Linked DNA regions of Homo sapiens: region 2 is reported to be linked to region 1. The links are microRNA targets in miRTarBase. Many come from high-throughput screens and were not tested one by one. Region 1 holds a microRNA gene; the other region holds the end of a gene's coding sequence.

Region 1 (4,408 bases):
AGATCATAATTCATTAAAATACTAAAAGATATTCACTATATGTTCTTCAGTTATCAAATATTAAATTTAATATACCCCATCATTTCAGATCAAGGATGATGACAAATCATTGCATAGTTGAACATAGATGCCGATGATTGTGGAACAATAGAGAACATAAGCCAGGTATCATGCAAGAAGCATAAAGAGTAGAAGGAAATCCTAGACCTAGTTCATTAATTTGGAAAATTAAAAAGGCATATGATAAAAAGAAATATATTACATCACCTGTATATTACCAGAGCTATGATTATCCAAAAGAAAAGGAAAAAACATCTACATTTATGAAAGCAGAAGCAGTACAAATAAATAAACATATATTTATTTATTTCTATTCTATAAACTGGATAATGTACGTAACTCTACCATGTATATTAGGGTAATTAAGCTCATGAAATCATTTAAATGAAAGTGGATTTTCAAATATTAGACTAGAAAATAATTAAAAATGTGTACTTAGCCCTATAAGTTTTGAGTTCTAGTTGATGAGACAGAAATACTTTTAAAATTTATGAAGTATCCACATTAATATGAAGTAACATTTATTTTACCTTATTGGAATTCTAAACTTTCAGAGTCTTAAGCATGATTTTTCTTTTCTAATGCAATGAGCTCTTTTAATTACAATCATTGTTAAATAAGAATACTAATATATATGGCATTTCCCAAGGTTACTCTGCTTATAACTTTAAAATTTAGCTGTTGCCAAAAAAAAAAATTTCAGCTCAATTTAAATTTCTTTTGTGACAGCTTTTATCTGCTCACCACTGCTTTCTTATGGCAATCATAAATTCTCAATGCGAAGCAAAGCACTGTTCTGCTTTCCTCAAACAAAAGGGAAACTCATCATGTGTTTTATTTTAAGAAGAGCAACATACTTCTCAGGCATTTATTATCTGTATGTCCTCAGGTTTTGTGACAAAAAAGCTATACACACAAACACATCCATGTATGTATAGAAATGTAATTGGAAACATATCAATTTTTTCTAGCCAGTAGATACACCTTCGGACGTCTTGAACTTAAAATGAAAAATTAAAGAAAAACTACATTGCAAACTCTCCATTGTCTCTGGGGTTCTTAGCTCATTTTCTCTGATAAAACCATGGGCATGGACAATTAAGAAATTAAGATGTGACCAATGATACAATAACATCCTGAAAATTGTACAGTAAGCCATCTGACCCTTAGAAACTTGTGTGCAAGTGTGTTTATCTTTGTAGATAGATCTTAATTAAATTACCTGGATCAAAGCTTAACGTATACTAAATTGCCACTCATGAATTATTGTCACACATTCTTGAGACACGGCTTTACAAATTTATATCCTTAAAAACCTAGATTGGAGTGCCTTCTTCACACATCCATGTCTAATATGGATCATGTTGAGTATCTTTGGATATATTAATTTTGCAATTTAATTTCAGAAAAAAGTAGTATAACACTATTGTTTTGATTTATATTTTTCTAATTGCAAAAGTTTTCTAATTTTCATGTATGTATTGGTAATTTGCATTCTATTCCTATAGAATTGTATATATTTTATTTTGTAATTTAGTATTGCTTCTTAAAAATAAATATTGACATTGTATATCATTTCGTTACATATATTGTATGTTTTCCTAATCCATCATGCATCACATACTTTGTTTTCCATATAAATTGTCATATATGTTTATTAACTAACTCATAAATACTCATATCTGTCACCATTTTTTAATGCTTTCTTGTGTTTTGTCATGTTTAGGAACACTTTCCCCACAATTCACAATACTATCTGACAGGTGTTAGTATACCTGTCAGTGTTCTTGGTTGTAGATGACTGAAATCCATTCCAATTGACCTAAACCAGGTAATAGATTATATTGGATAAATCATATAATTATTGGAAGGCTAAAGAAACAGGCTCAGAACAGGGCAGCCCCATGGAAACCAGGTTCCAGAATGGCAGTAAAATCCCCCCACAGGAACAGTCTGATGAGATAGCGCTGCTGCCACCGTGGCACTTCCTCCCCTAGGGCCTGGGATATTTGATGGTTAATTTCTGTACCTCTGTGATGAATACATACTTGTTTGTTTCTTACTGTTTTTACTTCTTGCTTCTGTTTCAAATTTCTCCCCGAAGCCATCTGTTTTAGTTTCCTCAGGCTGCCATAACAGATTAGCATAAAACAAATGGCTAAAAGAACAGAAATGTATTCTCCCCCAGTTCTAGAAGCCAGTTCAAACTCGGGTGTCGGCAGGATTGCATTTAATCCAGGATTCTAGGAGACAATTCTTTCTTATCTCTTCCAGTTCCTGGTAGCTCCAGATGTTTCTTGGAGCTACACTTGGCTATTTAAAGTTAATTTTAATGTTTAATTAACTAAACATTAAAATAATTAAAAAGTCAGTCCCTCCATTGTGTTAGCTGTATTTGAAATACTCAAAGGCACATGTGGCTACAGGCTACTATATTGGACTATGCAAGGGTAGAACACGTGTTATCACACAATGGTCTCTTGCACAGTATTGCTCTAGAATATTCCCTGGACAGAAAAGTTTTACCTGTGGGGCATTAAACAACAAAGAGCCTTACAATTGCCTCTGACTTGTATAGTAAAGCCAACAGTTGTTTGTTGTCATCGTCAGAAAAGTTGATTCCATATTTGAATATGGTTTCACTGCTTGTCATGCTTGGCCAATGCCACAAACCATGGATTAACTGATGGCCTTCTCCACTCTCATGGCTATTCACCCCCAACAATAGAACTTATTTCTTTCATGTTGCCTCATATGGCAGAATCCCCTTCTATTTTAAGGCTGAATAATATTTCATGGTCATATACATATATACACACACACAGTCATGCATTGCTTAACAGGGAAATGTACCTTAAGGCAATTTTATCATTGTTTGAACATCATGGAGTGTCCTTATCCAAACCTAGATGGTATTGAGTGGATGCTGTTATATATACAGCCATGCACTCTGTAGTTTGGGTACACAGTGCATGGCTGTATATATAACACTATCCATTCATCTTTCAGCAGGACTTTTTTTTGGTCACAACCCTGCTAACCAAAACAGGATCTGGCCAGAGAGCATGAAGTGAAGAAACTGATAGGAAGTGGCAGATGTCAACAAAAGCAATCTCTAACTACTCATTGCAATTTAATTGTCATGGTGCTGGTGGTAGTGTCTTATGCTAATGAGCAATATGAGCAGCCTGGCAACACAACCCAGAAGTTACCACCTCTTTCCATGGCAACAACCTAAAAGTTACTGCCCCTGCCTTAGAAAGTTCTAAACAACCTGCCCCTCAATTTGCATTGGCTCACCCCTCAATTTGCATGCATTTGACCTGCCTTAGAAAGTTCTAAACAACCTGCCCCTCAATTTGCATTGGCTCACCCCTCAATTTGCATGCAATTGAATGTGGGTCTCGCTGAGTATAAATACCGTTGCCAAGAGACCATATGTTGCTGACTCTGATTGCACTGCCTATGATTTAGCCCTGCTCTGCAAGGAGCAGTACCATTCAATAAACGATTGCTAAGACTCCTAGCTCATCCTTGAATTTTTTCCGGGGTTAAGCAAGAAATCCTCCCTGGCTAAGCCCCAGTTTGGGGCCTTGCCTGTCCCACAGCAGTGTAACGTACTACACACTTAGACAATATGACATAGACTGTATCTCCTAGGCTACAACTCTGTATAGCTTATTATTATACTGAATGCTATAGGCAATTGTAACACAATAGCATCCGTACATCTAAACATACCAAAACAAAGAAAAATTACACTAAAAACACAGTATCGTAATCTTATTGGACCACATTTATATATGTGGTTTTTTGTTGACTGATGCAATACACAGTGCATGGCTGTATATGTAACACTATCAGTCACCATTCAATGAGCAATTAGGTCGTTTCTATACTTTATTGCTACTAACACTACAATGAAATACATATGGATAAACCTAGAGGGCATTAAGCTAAGTAACTCTTACTTCTAAGATTTCTACCTTAAAGAGTCATATTTATGGCCTTTACTTGAGGTAAACTTCAGAAGCCATTTGTTGTGGATTAGGTAACGTGTGGAGAAATTGCTTTGTTGGGTTTTTCTTCCTTTGCATTTTAGTTTACACATATTAATTGTATGTATTTATAATCTGCAGAGTGATATTTTGATAAATGTATATGAAGTGTAATGATCAAATCAGAGTAATTAGGATAAACATCACCTCAAACATTTATCATTTCTTCATGTTTGGAATATTCCAAATCTCTTCTAGTTTTTTTAATATACACTATAAATTATTATTAACTATGCTTACCCTATAGTGCTATAGAACACTAGAACTTATTCCTCCTGTCTAGCTGTGAC
Region 2 (4,408 bases), not on the chromosome of region 1:
AAAGCTGTGAGTCATGTTTTTCCCTCAATAACTGCCAATTCTATATTAATGTTCTTTTCAAAGAGAATATCCTTAGTCTGTTATTTTATTAACTATTCCATTAATTTATTTGATCATATAAACTACTTGCTGTTATTCACCTTAGTTTTTAAAAATTTCTAGCTTAAGTTAATCCTTATTTTTTCCCATAAATTGCCTGTTATGTGACAGGCACTGTAGGTGTGTGAACAGAATGGTGAACAACACAAATACTTATTTCTCAATCCAGATGTTCTAAATGCATTGCTTTAAATTTTCTACCAAGTAGAGCTTTGGTTGGTGATTTCCCCCAAGTTATCTGTAGGCAACATGTGATCATTCATCACTAAATAGTCTACAATTTCAGACTTGATTTTCTTTCTTTTTTTTTTTTTTTGAGATGGAGTCTCACTCTATTGCCAGGCTGGAGTGCAGTGGTGTGATCTCAGCTCACTGCAACCTCCGCCTCCTGGGTTCAAGCGATTTTCCTGCCTCAGCCTCCCGAGTAGCTGGGACTACAGGCGTGCCACCATGTCCAGCTAATTTTTGTATTTTTAGTAGAGACAGAGTTTCACCATGTTGGCCAGGATGGTCTTGATCTCCTGGCCTCAAATGATCCACCCACCTTGGCCTCCCAAAGTACTGCGATTACAGGCATGAGCCACCACGCCTGGCCCAAACTTGATTTTCTACTTTAAAAAACTTTATTATGGAAAATTTAAAATATATGTAAAGATAGTAAGAACGGCACAATGAACCCTGTGTACCTAATGATCCAGATTAAACATTTACCAACATTTTGCTAATCTTGTTTCATCTATCCCTCCCACCTTTTGTTTTTAAGTATTTAAAAGTAAATCACAGGCATAACATTTCAGCCTTAAATACCTCAGTATGAATCTCTAACACTTAAGGACTCATACACATATACCCATAATGCCATAGTCATGCCTAACATATGAACAATAAATTATTTCGTATCATTTAGTAACCAATCCATGTTTACATTTGTACAATATGTAGAGACATTTTATTCCTTCAAATCTTGTATTGACTATGTTTTCTTTATTTTCTGTATTCCTGATGCTCTGGCCACTTGGGGCCTTGATCCTGGATAGGCTGCCCCTCCCAGGGCAAGCTAATGCATAGATGATAAACTCCACTGCAAGCATGCCTTTCATATACAAACCAACCAATCCAGAGCCCATACTCCCAACTATCTCCTTTACCAAACTCTCATACACCAATTCAATATTCCCCTGCCCTAACTAGACAATTACGAATCCCCCCTAGATCCCAGAGACCAACAAAATTACTCAAACTATTCAATCCTAAGCTTACCAGTGTGCCTACCCCTGCCTTGTCCATTCCTTCCCATGAAAACCCCCAATAAAAGCTCTGGGCCATGCTGTGCTCTCACCCTCTGCCTCCTGATACACCCAGGTGCTTCTTTACGTGACCCTGCATGCCATGCCATGCCTCCCGTTTGTGGGATCTGCGTATAAACTTCTTCCTTCATGACAATAATTTCCATGTCTGCCTGTCTCACCATGATTGATTAAAACAAATCCCAAGCGCATTTTAACACAAGGATCCTAAAATGCTCCATACACTGTATTTGAAGGATACGTTTCTTAGTCTCCTTTAAAGTGTAGGATTCCATTTTTGTCTTTTTTTTTTTTTTTTTTGACATGTATTGGTTAAAAAACTAGGCCATTACTTCTGCAGAATTTCCCAAATTGTGCATTTGGTTGTTTGCTTCTTTGTGTTGTTAATTTGTTCTTTTATTCCCCATGTTTCCTGTAAACTGGTAATTAGGTTTGGAGACTAACTTGTACTTCTCAGTTTTGGGGGAGCCAAGAAAACTTCACAGGTGTCCACTGTGTGTATCCATTTCATCACATCAAGTTCATCTGGCTGATCTCATTTAGAGATGTTAATATAGATTAGTGTCCTGTCATTCTGCTCCATGCATTATAAGCTTCCTATCCATTTTTCACCTAATGGTCTTCGCATCCATTGCTATCACCACGAAAATCCATGATTTTGTAAAATTAAAGAGCGTAGTTTTCAAATTCTATCATTCATTTGATCTTTGTTTTGTTTTGTTTTTTGTTTTTTGTTTGAGACAGAGTCTCGGTCTGTCACCCAGGCTGGAGTGCAGTGGCGCGATCTCGGCTCACTGCAAGCTCCGCCTCCCGGGTTCAAGCCATTCTCCTGCCTCAGCCTCCTGAGTAGCTGGGACTACAGGCGCCTGCCACCACGCCCGGCGAATTTTTTGTATTTTTAGTAGAGATGGGGTTTCACCGTGTTAGCCAGGATGGTCTTGATCTCCTGACCTCACGATCCACCTGCCTCGGCCTCCCAAAGTGCTGGGATTACAGGCTTGAGCCACCGCGCCTGGCCTCCTTTGACCTTTTAACCAGTTGGAATTCTCTAATCAACAACTTTCCTTCACCAACTTTTGGTTGTCTTGAAATATAGTTTGTAAAGGATAGGCAAGGTAAATATTCCATTCTTTTCCTTTATTTGTTAATAATGCTCTAGTATGCTCCATAACTAATCAATGCATTTGGTTCAGGAAAAAAAAAAGCTCAAAGGTTGGAGTGGTCATGATAAAAGGACACAGGAGCCAATTTGAGGGGATTGCCTCAAAATGCTAAATTGACAATTTAGCATTTTTAAAAAACAATGAAGTAGTTTAAAAAATTAATGGGGCTTCATAATACAGGTGACTTTTAATTTCCAAAGTTTCATGTTATCCTTTGTCAATTTTTAATATTGACTGGGGCCAGAGAATACTGATTGTAGTTTTTTTTTTTTTTTGAGACAGGGTCTTGCAGTCACTCAAGCTGGAGTGCAGTGGTACAATCACAGCTCACTGAAGCCTCAACTCTTGGGTTCAAATGATCCTCCCACCTCAGCCTCGAGTAGCTAGGACTACAGGCATGCACCATTATGCCCAGCTAATTTTTAAAGTTTTTTGGTAGAGACAGGGTCTCACCATGTTGCCCAGGCTGGTCTCGAACTTCTGGCCTCAAGCAATCGTCCTTACTTGGCCTCCCAAAGTGCTGGATTTACAGGCATGGGCCACCTCACCTGGTCTAGGGTATCTGTTTTTTAATGAACAAACTGGAAAGGAATTCCTTACTTTCAATATTTTAACGAGAATAAGATATCTCAAGTTCAATGAAGATTAAATGTTGGTGGAAGGCATTTCTATACTCATTATGCCCACAGCCTTTAGTATGAATTATGTAAAAATAAATATTTAGTATGATAATAAAAGAAAGTTTAGTGGCTTAAAACAACAACCATTTTATTATATCTCATGTTTTTGTGGGTCAGAAATTTGGGCCAGGGGCTCAGCTGGTCAATTCTTCCATTCTACATGGCATCAGTTCAGGTTACCAAGTCGCTCACTGGCATTTAGCTGGTGGCTGGTCTGGTGGATCCAAAATTTCACTCAAATGTCTGGTATCTTGGTGGATGTCAAGAAGACAGGGTTCAGCAGGTGCCTCTCCCTCTCTACGTAGTTTCAGGGCCTCTTCATGTGGTCTCTTCAGCAAAGTAGCCAGACTTTGTAACAAGACAGTTCTGTCATTTCATGAGATGAAGTAACCCTACCAGTAAAGTCTGAGTCAAGAAACCAGCACAGCAGTACGTCTACCATATTCTACTGGGCGAAGCAGTCACAGAGGGATGTAGATTCCTGTATACAACAGAGGGATGTAGATTCCACCTCTTGATTGAAAGTGTGTCAAACTGCTGCACTCTTATATGACCATGTCATAAATTAAAAAATTATAGCACAGAGCAGTTAAGCGTCTTGTCCAGTATGACACAAAGTGATGGGATAGGGATGACGGTAAATGTCTTTTTCATTCTTATAACAGGATTAGTTTTTAGAACAAATATGCTGAAGTTTCAGGTTTGAGTGATGATGGACTACAATACATTGTCACACTCTTTTAATGGTATAAAACCTCTAATGCCAACGCAGTTGCATGTATGGAGCAAAATAGATTAATTACTACATTCATAGAATGTTCTATAACACAGAAGTTGAAAAGACTTTCTTAGATTTTTACATTATGAATTTTCAGATGATGAGTAAGGTGTGAATGTTGCCTAAAGGCCTTCTTACATTCCTTACATTCATAGGGTTTCTCACCAGAATGAATTCTCAGATGTTGAATAAGGGATGAATTAAGTCTAAAGGCCTTCCTACATTCCTTACACTCAAAGGGTTTTTCGCCAGTATGAATGCTCTGATGTAGAGTAAGTTTTTGGCGCAATCTAAAGGCCTTGCCACATTCCTTACATTTATAAGGTTTCTCACCAATATGAATACTCTGATGCTGTGTGAGTTGTGAAAGTAGTCTGAAGG

Evidence for each region. The annotated mature microRNA hsa-miR-5011-3p reads GUGCAUGGCUGUAUAUAUAACA and lies in region 1 at 3,029-3,050, shown strand. An mRNA with a match to its seed (bases 2 to 7 or 8) in the 3' UTR can be bound and repressed. Matches are read on the target gene's strand: a 7mer-m8 pairs with bases 2 to 8, a 7mer-A1 pairs with bases 2 to 7 and ends in A, and an 8mer does both.
Region 2: the mRNA of ZFP82 is a reported target of hsa-miR-5011-3p. Seed matches in the 3' UTR shown: 7mer-A1 at 4,022-4,028.

The regions. Positions count from the first base shown.
Region 1 is chr18:67,078,617-67,083,024 of GRCh38, forward strand. It overlaps MIR5011 (microRNA 5011), which reads left to right and starts at 2,968; the gene lies at 2,968-3,070.
Region 2 is chr19:36,388,644-36,393,051 of GRCh38, forward strand. It overlaps ZFP82 (ZFP82 zinc finger protein), which reads right to left. Exons shown (of 5, transcript NM_133466.4): 5 at 1-4,408. The coding sequence ends at 4,098. Among named protein-coding and RNA genes, the nearest start is that of ZFP14, 12 kb to the left of the region's middle.